Linked DNA regions of Homo sapiens. The protein of the gene in region 2 interacts with the protein of the main gene of each other region in a pairwise test. Each region holds a gene or a part of one and is shown on either strand. Other genes may lie near its edges. The genes, in order: RILPL1 and PIP4P1.

Region 1 (3,810 bases), on a different chromosome or scaffold from region 2:
AGGATGGGTTCAATCTCCTGACCTTGTGATCCGCCTGCCTTGGCCTCCCAAAGTGCTGGGATTACAGGCGTGAGCCACCGCACCTGGCCCCAGTTTTTTTTTTTTTTTTTTTTTGAGACAGAGTCTCGCTCCGTTGCCCAGGCTGGAGTGCAGTGGTGCGATCTCAGCTAACGGCAACCTCCGCCTCCTGGGTTCAAGCAATTCTTCTGCCTCAGCCTCCCGAGTAGCTGGGACTACAGGCGCACACCACCATGCCTGGCTAATTTTTTGTATTTTAGTAGAGACGGGGTTTCGCCACGTTAGCCAGGCTGGTCTTGAACTCCTGAGCTCAGGAAATCGGCCTGCCTTGGCCTCCCAACTCTTAAACCATTTTAACTTAGGCTTATGTCATTTTTAGCCAAAAGCAGCCCTTAACCACTCCTTTTTTTTTCTTTTTTCTTTTTTTGAGACAGAGTCTCACCCCTGTCGCCCAGGCTGGAGTGCAGTGGCGTGATCTCAGTTCACCACAACCTCCACGTCCCGGGTTCAAGCAATTCTCCTGTCCCAGCCCCCCAAAGTAATTGGGACTACAGGTGTGCACCACCACGCCCAGCTAATTTTTGTATTTTTAGTAGAGATGGGGCTTCACCATATTGGCCAGGCTGGTCTCGAACTCCTGACCTCAAGTGATCTGCCTGCCTCGGTCTCCCAAAGTGCTGGGATTACAGGTGTGAGCCACCATGCCTGGCAACTACTCCCTTTTAAGACTTCTCTCCCTGACCTTCCTCATTTGTATCCCAGATGCCTGTCCTGTCCTACAGCAAACCTGGAAGTAACTACCAAATTCACAGGATACCTAATGACTACTGGGACTTGAACCCACCTGACTGTGAGCTTGTCTGTCCTACCTCCCCTACCTGTAACTCAGGTTACTAGTGCAGCGTCTGCAAACTTTCAACAGCTCATAAACATCTGCTGGGAGAAAACACAAGCCTGAGTGTGTCCCTAAAGTTCACTATACTTTTCTGAAACAGCATCTCCATTGTCCACATTTCTATCTGTCAAAGTCTCAGCATTGTTAACACTGACGCCCGGCTTCAGGAACAGCTCTTCCCTGAAACCCCACCTCCCCACCTCTGCCAGGATGAACGATCTCACCCTCTGTGTTCCTGGCACAGTCTGGGGGCACATTTAAGGAACAGACACCGCTAGTGCCCACTTTGTAGCCCTGGGCCTACCTGGATGTTAGCTGCAGCTGTGATGGACAGCTCTGGCCACGCGGACAGTAACATGCACAGTGTTGTGCGACCATCACCGCTCTCTAATTCCGGATCATTTCCATCGTCCCCAAAGGGAACTCCATGCCCATCGGCAGTCACTCCCCATTCCTCCCTCCCCCAGCCCCATTCGGACACCAGTCTACTTTCTGGCTCTATGGATTTGCCTGTTCTGGGACATTTCGTGCAAATGGAGTCACACACTGGCCTTTTGGGCCTGGCTTCTTTCACTCCGCGTGATGTTTTTGCAGCTCATCCGTGCTGCCGCGTGGCCAGGGCTGCATTCCTCTTTAGAGCTGAATCATATCCCCCTGTATGGAGAGACCACTGTTCACCCATTCATCTGCTGATGGACATGTGGGTTGTTTCCACCTTTTGGCGACTGTGAATAGTGCTGCTATAGGGTCTCACTCTGTTGCCCAGGCTGGAGAGCAATGGCTCAATCATGGCTCACTGCATCCTCAAACTCCTGGGCTCAAGTGATCCTCCTGCCTCATCTTCCCAAGTAACTGGGACTACAGGCATATGCCACCATACCTAAGATTTTCTTTTTTTGTTTTTTGAGATGGGGTCTGACTCACTCTGTTGCCCAGGCTGGAGTGCGGTGGTGCAATCTCAGCTCACTGCAACCTCTGCCTCCGAGGTTCAAGCAATTCTCCTGCCTCAGCCTCCCAAGTAGCTGGGATAACAGATGCCCACCACCACACCCAGCTAATTTTGTATTTTTTTTTAGTAGAGACGGGGTTTTACCATGTTGGCCAGGCTGATCCTGAACTCCTGACCTCAAGTCATCTGCCCACCTCAGCCTCCCAAAGTGCTGGGATTACAGGTGTGAGCCACCATACCCAGCCCAAAAGCAAGTTTTTAATTTTTAAAGAATTTTTTGTAGAGATAGGACCTCGCTATGTTGCCCAGGCCAGTCTTGAGCTCCTGGCCTCAAGTGATCTTCTTGATCCCCTTGCCTCAGCCTCTCAAAGGGCTGGGATTACAAGTGCAGGTGACCACACCTGGCCTTCATGTAAAAGTTTGAACACCTGCTCTCAATTCTTTTGGATATGTGCCTAGGAGTGGAATTGCTGGGTCATATGGTACTGTGTGATTAATGATTAAGGTCTGGACTAACTAATGTCTGCCTCCCATACTAAACTGTAAGCTCCATGTGGACAGGGATCATGTCTGTATTTTGCTCGCTATTTTATCCTCTGGGCCGGCTACACAGTCAACAATCATTGGTATGAATGAATAAATAAATGGCAGGTGCCTAATAACCATCACTGAGATGGGAGAATGCTGGGAGTCTGGGGTTCCAACCCCTCAGCTGTGTGTCCTCAGGCCAGTAGCTTGTTCTCTCTGAGCCTCTCGTTTTTTCTCTCTCTCTCTCTCTCTTTTTTTTTTAGACAGGTCTGGCTCTGTTACCCAGGCTGCAGCGCAGTTGTGCAATCATGGCTCATTGCAGCCTTGAACTCCTGGGCTCAAGTGATCCTCCTGCCTAAGCCTCCCAGGCAGGCAGCTGGTACTACAGGTGTGCACCACCACGCGTGGCTAATTAAAAAAAATGTTTGTAGAGAATTGGGGTCTTGCTATGTTGCCCAGGTTGGCCATTTTCTGAAGTATAATGGGGAAAACAAGGCAACCCTGCCTGCCTTAAGCCAACCCCCAGACTGACCCTCTGCTACCACCTCTGCACCCAGCTTCCTGCTCACCTCAGGCTCCTCCTCCCCATTCTGGCTGTGCTCCCCCTGCAGCCTCTCTCGCAACTTCCCCAGCTCTGCTCGCAGGCTGCCCATCTCCTGCTCCTTGGTCTGCAGGTCTGCCTCCAGCTCCACCTTCTGTTCGATCAGGGCTTTCCCCTGGGCCTCCACCACCGTGACCCGGTGCCGAAGGTCATGGTTGATCTTCATCAGCCGTGTCTGCTGCTGCTGTAACTGTAGAAAAAGGGAGACCATTGTGCGGGGCTGCCACCTGCGGTAGCTCAGGTTGTACACTGCACAACGGCAAACCATCCATAGGTGTGCCATTTACATTGCAGACATCTTTGTTTGAAAGTTGTTCGTATTCTTATAGCTGATGATGCTAGAGATGGGCAATTTGTGTATTTTCTATGATAATTTTATGGCAGATGGAAGGGTGTCTTGCTAGAATTAATACATTATGAAAATTTCCCAACAAATGGAAGTAACATGCCTTCAGAAAGGGGCATTTTTTTCTGATTTACACAGAGACACTGTATGGGTTCCTGGAGCACGCTGGACCCTGCTAAGTCTGCTCACAGAGAGGCATGAAGTGGTGGGGCTGGAGGAGGCCTTGGGGTCAGAGCAAAGTCTGCCCAGGCCTCGGGACCTTCCCAGGAGGCGGGAGGAGCCTGCTCACCGGGCAGTGCCACGTTTCCTCCTGCTCTGCCAGTGAAGACTTGAAGTTTCCAGGCTGGGCCCGCCAAGCCATGAGCAGGATCCACACCCCACGGAGCCCCAAGAATGAGAGTGAGGGAGAGAAGGGGCCTGCTGAGTGGAGGGTCTGGTCTCTGGCTGGCACCTACTGGCTGGGAGGGTGGACG
Region 2 (4,259 bases):
AACAGGATGACAAATGCCCAGGCTGCATAGATGCCTCCATATCGCCGTGCATGCTTCCATGTGCCAAACTGATGAAGATAAGGAGGGAGAAGAAAAGAAAGATGGGGTTAATGTTGGTCTCCACTACCTCCTATTAGTTCTAAGAACAGTAATAACTCACGCTTCAGTCCTTGTTCCTTATCCACATGTAGCCACCCTCAGGGACCTTCTTAAAGGCAGAGCTGATCAGCTTCCTTCCCTTAGGCGTAACATACTCATCCCATCCCACACTGTATCTCAGTTTTTCTTAATATCTGACAACTGAGCCAGGTTTGAAAAATAGCAACTCTTAAATTAAGAATTTCACTGTCCTATCCTCATCCTACAGAGAAAGGAAGGCTGTTTTTCACTCTTGTAGTAGTAATAAAGTCTGTTTGATCAGCCACTTTGCACTTTAGCTCATCCATATCTTAAAACAAAACAAACTAGTCCCCCAAGTTTCTTCCACTTTTTTTTAGGGTAGCAGTTTCCCAAATCTTAGCCTATGGAGATGAGGCTGCAGAATGAAAGAGGTTGGGGCAAGGGTACTCACGGCAAGGCCAGTGGCAGTGACTGCCAAAAGCAAGCCAAGCAAGAAGCAGCAGATACATCTCTTACGTGGGTATCTGCGCCCAATAGATGACCTGTGGGGAGGCAAATAGAAATGGATGCTTTCTATGGCCTTGTAGTTTTTACTCCATACATCAATTACCAGCTCAATCCCTAATCACTTACACTTTCCTGCAGTGAGGACAACGTGCCAAAGTGCGGTCTGTGAACTCTGTCCACTATGGAGAAAGAAAACAAAAATAATAGCACAAGCAGGGTCTCCCTCAATGAGAACCTTGGGGTGGGGATGCAGAACATGTTCCCATAGGACAGACCTTTCAGGGGTCATTACCATTACTCTAAGAAATATACTCGAAATGACTCTTAGTCTCCTTTCCCCTCCCCTTCCCAATACCCCTTCCTCACCAGAAAAGTATTCTTGCAATGTCCACAGATAACCCTGACACCCATGGGTTGGGGTTCTGGACTCAGAGGTCCGGGATGCACAGGCCCCAGGTTGATGATTCTTTTGCTATACAAAAGAAAAAGACTTGTATTTTCAAACTTGTGTTTGAAAAATTTTTAATCCTAAAAATCTTCACAGTCCCTGTTCCACATCCCCCACTCCCTGTCTATTAAGTCACTCGACTTCTCTGTACTTAAGATACTCTGTCCCCCAACTGTATACCCTCAAGAATCCTTGAGAAAGAAAGAGCACTGTTTAAACTTCAGGTCCCCAATTCCCCTCCGACCTCAGGATAACACACCCAGTCCCCAAGGCTCTCTATTCTCCGAAACGACATCATTTCATCTCAATATTTTTATTGAGAAACGAGAAAGACAGCTATAACATTCCTGAGGCACATGCTTCAAAGCCTTTTCTCCTAAATAAACACTAGGCTCTCTCACCTTTACATTCTCTGTATACGCTCATCCTTTTTTGACTTTCCAGTTCCCCACTTAGGCCCTTCCCCACCTTATGCCTCTTACCAGTAGGGCCGAGGGCATGCAATCCGTTGGGATGTCACTTTGCAGATAAGGAGACAGTTACAGGGGCATCGAACATATTTTTTCCCTGGGGGTGCATTCTTGATTGGCTAGAGAATAATAGGGTCATCAGCAAGCAAACCTCTAATCCCAATCCCCTCCACTTCCCTCCAAAAACACTTTATGAGATCAGAAAAATAAGGTGCTAACCAGGAAGGAGAAATAAAAGAAAGACTATATCATGAGATTTGCAAATAGGAACTAGGCTAGGTGTAAAAGTGAGAGAAAGTGAACATTAGCTTTGGTGAGTGGCTTCTGGGGAAATGGCTGTGTGAGACACCTGGAACTGAAACCTGGGTATCATCAAAAGCACTTGGCTAATAGCCGGAAGGTCAGGGTCTAGAACCAAGACATCAGAAAGAGGATCCAGGAAACAGGGCCCATTTCATAGATATGTGTAACTCACGGTGGCTTCATTGCAGACACCACATTTGACTACATGCTGATGCATCTTGCCTTCCACGTTGATGAGAGATTGGCAGACTCGGCAGGTGATCATAGGGGCACTCCCACTGTCCGGGCTAGTTAAGGGTGAATAGGGGGGTGGGTCCTCCCCAGGCAACACGGCTGGATGCCCCTCGGGAAACGGGGGAAATGCTGGAGAGGAAGCAAATAGAAGGGCTGGGATCACTTACACCCCCACTGATGCTCCACGGTGGTAGGGAAGTCCTTCTGATCTTCAACCCTCTGACCAAGCTCGGAGGGCTTCTCATAATTGGCACTTCTATCAGGTTGCTCAGAACCCCCTTCCGTCCCTAGGCTGTGGTCGCGATTACGGAGGGAAGGAAGCCTCGCCCAGTCACAGGTGCAGCAGTCCCGCACCTGGCGACTGGGACCCGCCTCCGCCCTCGGTCCCGCCCCCTCCCCGGCTTTCAGAGTACCCCGGGGAGCACCTCGGACCCGCCCCGGCTTACCCTGGGGCGGGGCATGTTTACCGGCTCCGTACGGTGGTGCGGAGGGGGTCAGGCCTCCCCCGGGCCCAGCCCCACTCCCGCCGGGCCCCACTAAACCGTTGCCGCCCGCGCCACCGTCGATGGGCTCAGACAGCAGCGGGGAACGCTCTCCATCTGCCGCCATGGCCGCCACCGCCGCCTCCCGCTCAGGTCGGCGATCCGGCTCCCTTCGCCTCTGCCGTCGCCGCAGCCACCGCCACCGCCGCCACCGCCACCGCCGCTACCGGGTCCCCAGGGCGCCTGCGCGCCGCGCGCCCAGCTCACTCCGCAACCAGTGGCCTGCCCCGCCCCGTTCCGTCTAGCAGCACGTGATAGGCTATCCCCGCCCGGGTCATGCTATTATTCGCGTAGATAAACCAATTCCTGGTCCTGTGAAGGCAGCTCTCCTTTTCCATTGGGGAGCGACGCACAAACGTCAACTGTCACATGACCTGCCAGATGCTGCTGGGCTTGCAAAACCTGCACGTGACTAGAGGTTCTGCAAGCTATTGGGAGCGACGCCCATCGCGCTACCTCCAGACCAGGAGGTAGGGCTAGGCTGCGTCTGCTCAACTGGTCACGTGTTTCTGGAAGCTGCACGGTCCCTGTTGCTCTGCTCCTCATTGGTTCAAAGACACCACTAAAACACTTTTCTCCGGCTTTGCGTTGTAGCTGGTTTCCTATTGGCTGGTGACTTTACTTCTTTCGTCCTGTGATCCTAGCGGCGCAACTGCATTGGCCCGAACTTAGCGCCAGAACATGGGGGGCGTGGCTTATGCATTTTAAAGGAGGCTGGGCGGGTGCAATAAAGGAGTGCGGAAGCTTGGGATCTTCTGAGCGGGGAGAAAATGGACGGTGGGGAACAGTAGACAAAGTTAGCTGTTCTACTCAAAGAAGTACCTTTAAAAAGTCAGAGTAATGAGGTACCAGAAGGAAATGGATTAAAAAGTTAAGATTATCACTCCAGCCTTTGTCGCTAGAGTCACTTTCAGGACAGGACACAAGACTGGGTTTTCCTGGAAGCTGTCCTTACAGAGCCCCGTCTTTCCCCATTGCTGATCAAATTGTTAAATTATCTTTTCATTAGTGTCTCCACTACTAGAAGATTTCATCGTTTTACTAAAAAAAAAAAAAAAAAAATTCAATAGAGATGGGGTCTTGCCTATGCTGGACTCAAACTCCTGAGTTTGATCTCCTGCCTAAGCCTTCCCAGTAGCTGGGACTACAGGGACAAGCCACCGTGCCTTTACTCAGTTTTATGACCACCAACCTTTAACATACGCACAAGTTTGTAGATTGGATTAATCAAATACAAGGTTATTTTCGTCACCTTATTTGACAGATGGGACAGTCTTTAGGCCTGTCTCAACTTTGCTTCCAGCAAAGGGGCAGTGCCTCCTCCCCTACCTGAAGTCTCGTGTGGTCTTTATGGGCGCCTGAACCACACCTGGATTTTTTCCCAAGTCATAGCCCAAACTGGGACTGCTTTAAATATGGGAAGCAACAAGGAATTGATAAAAACAATAAACCCCGAGGAGGTCCATTATCAGTTTGGCTAGCAGACTCTCCACTAAGAAAGGAAGTGCATCAAAGAAAGTACAGCCAGCCCCAAATATGTAATAACAAAGGAACTGCAGATGTCCCAGCACTTGGCTGCTACAGGGGCTGGAGACTTCACCTAGGTCCTGATTTTTTTAGACAGGGTTTTCTCAG

Evidence for each region.
Region 1: the proteins of PIP4P1 (region 2) and RILPL1 interact in binary tests that used the Homo sapiens proteins (3 or more experiments, as listed by UniProt).

The regions. Positions count from the first base shown.
Region 1 is NC_000012.12:123,495,585-123,499,394, forward strand, and holds part of RILPL1 (RILP-like protein 1), read right to left. Parts: intron 3,182-3,810; coding exon 2,960-3,181; intron 1-2,959. UniProt on the Homo sapiens protein: Plays a role in the regulation of cell shape and polarity. Plays a role in cellular protein transport, including protein transport away from primary cilia.
Region 2 is NC_000014.9:20,458,635-20,462,893, forward strand, and holds the start of PIP4P1 (type 1 phosphatidylinositol 4,5-bisphosphate 4-phosphatase), read right to left. Parts: upstream 2,801-4,259; 5' UTR 2,692-2,800; coding exon 2,550-2,691; coding exon of another isoform or gene 2,529-2,549; intron 2,212-2,528; coding exon 2,021-2,211; intron 1,665-2,020; coding exon 1,558-1,664; intron 1,100-1,557; coding exon 994-1,099; intron 807-993; coding exon 754-806; intron 663-753; coding exon 572-662; intron 69-571; coding exon 1-68. UniProt on the Homo sapiens protein: Catalyzes the hydrolysis of phosphatidylinositol-4,5-bisphosphate (PtdIns-4,5-P2) to phosphatidylinositol-4-phosphate (PtdIns-4-P).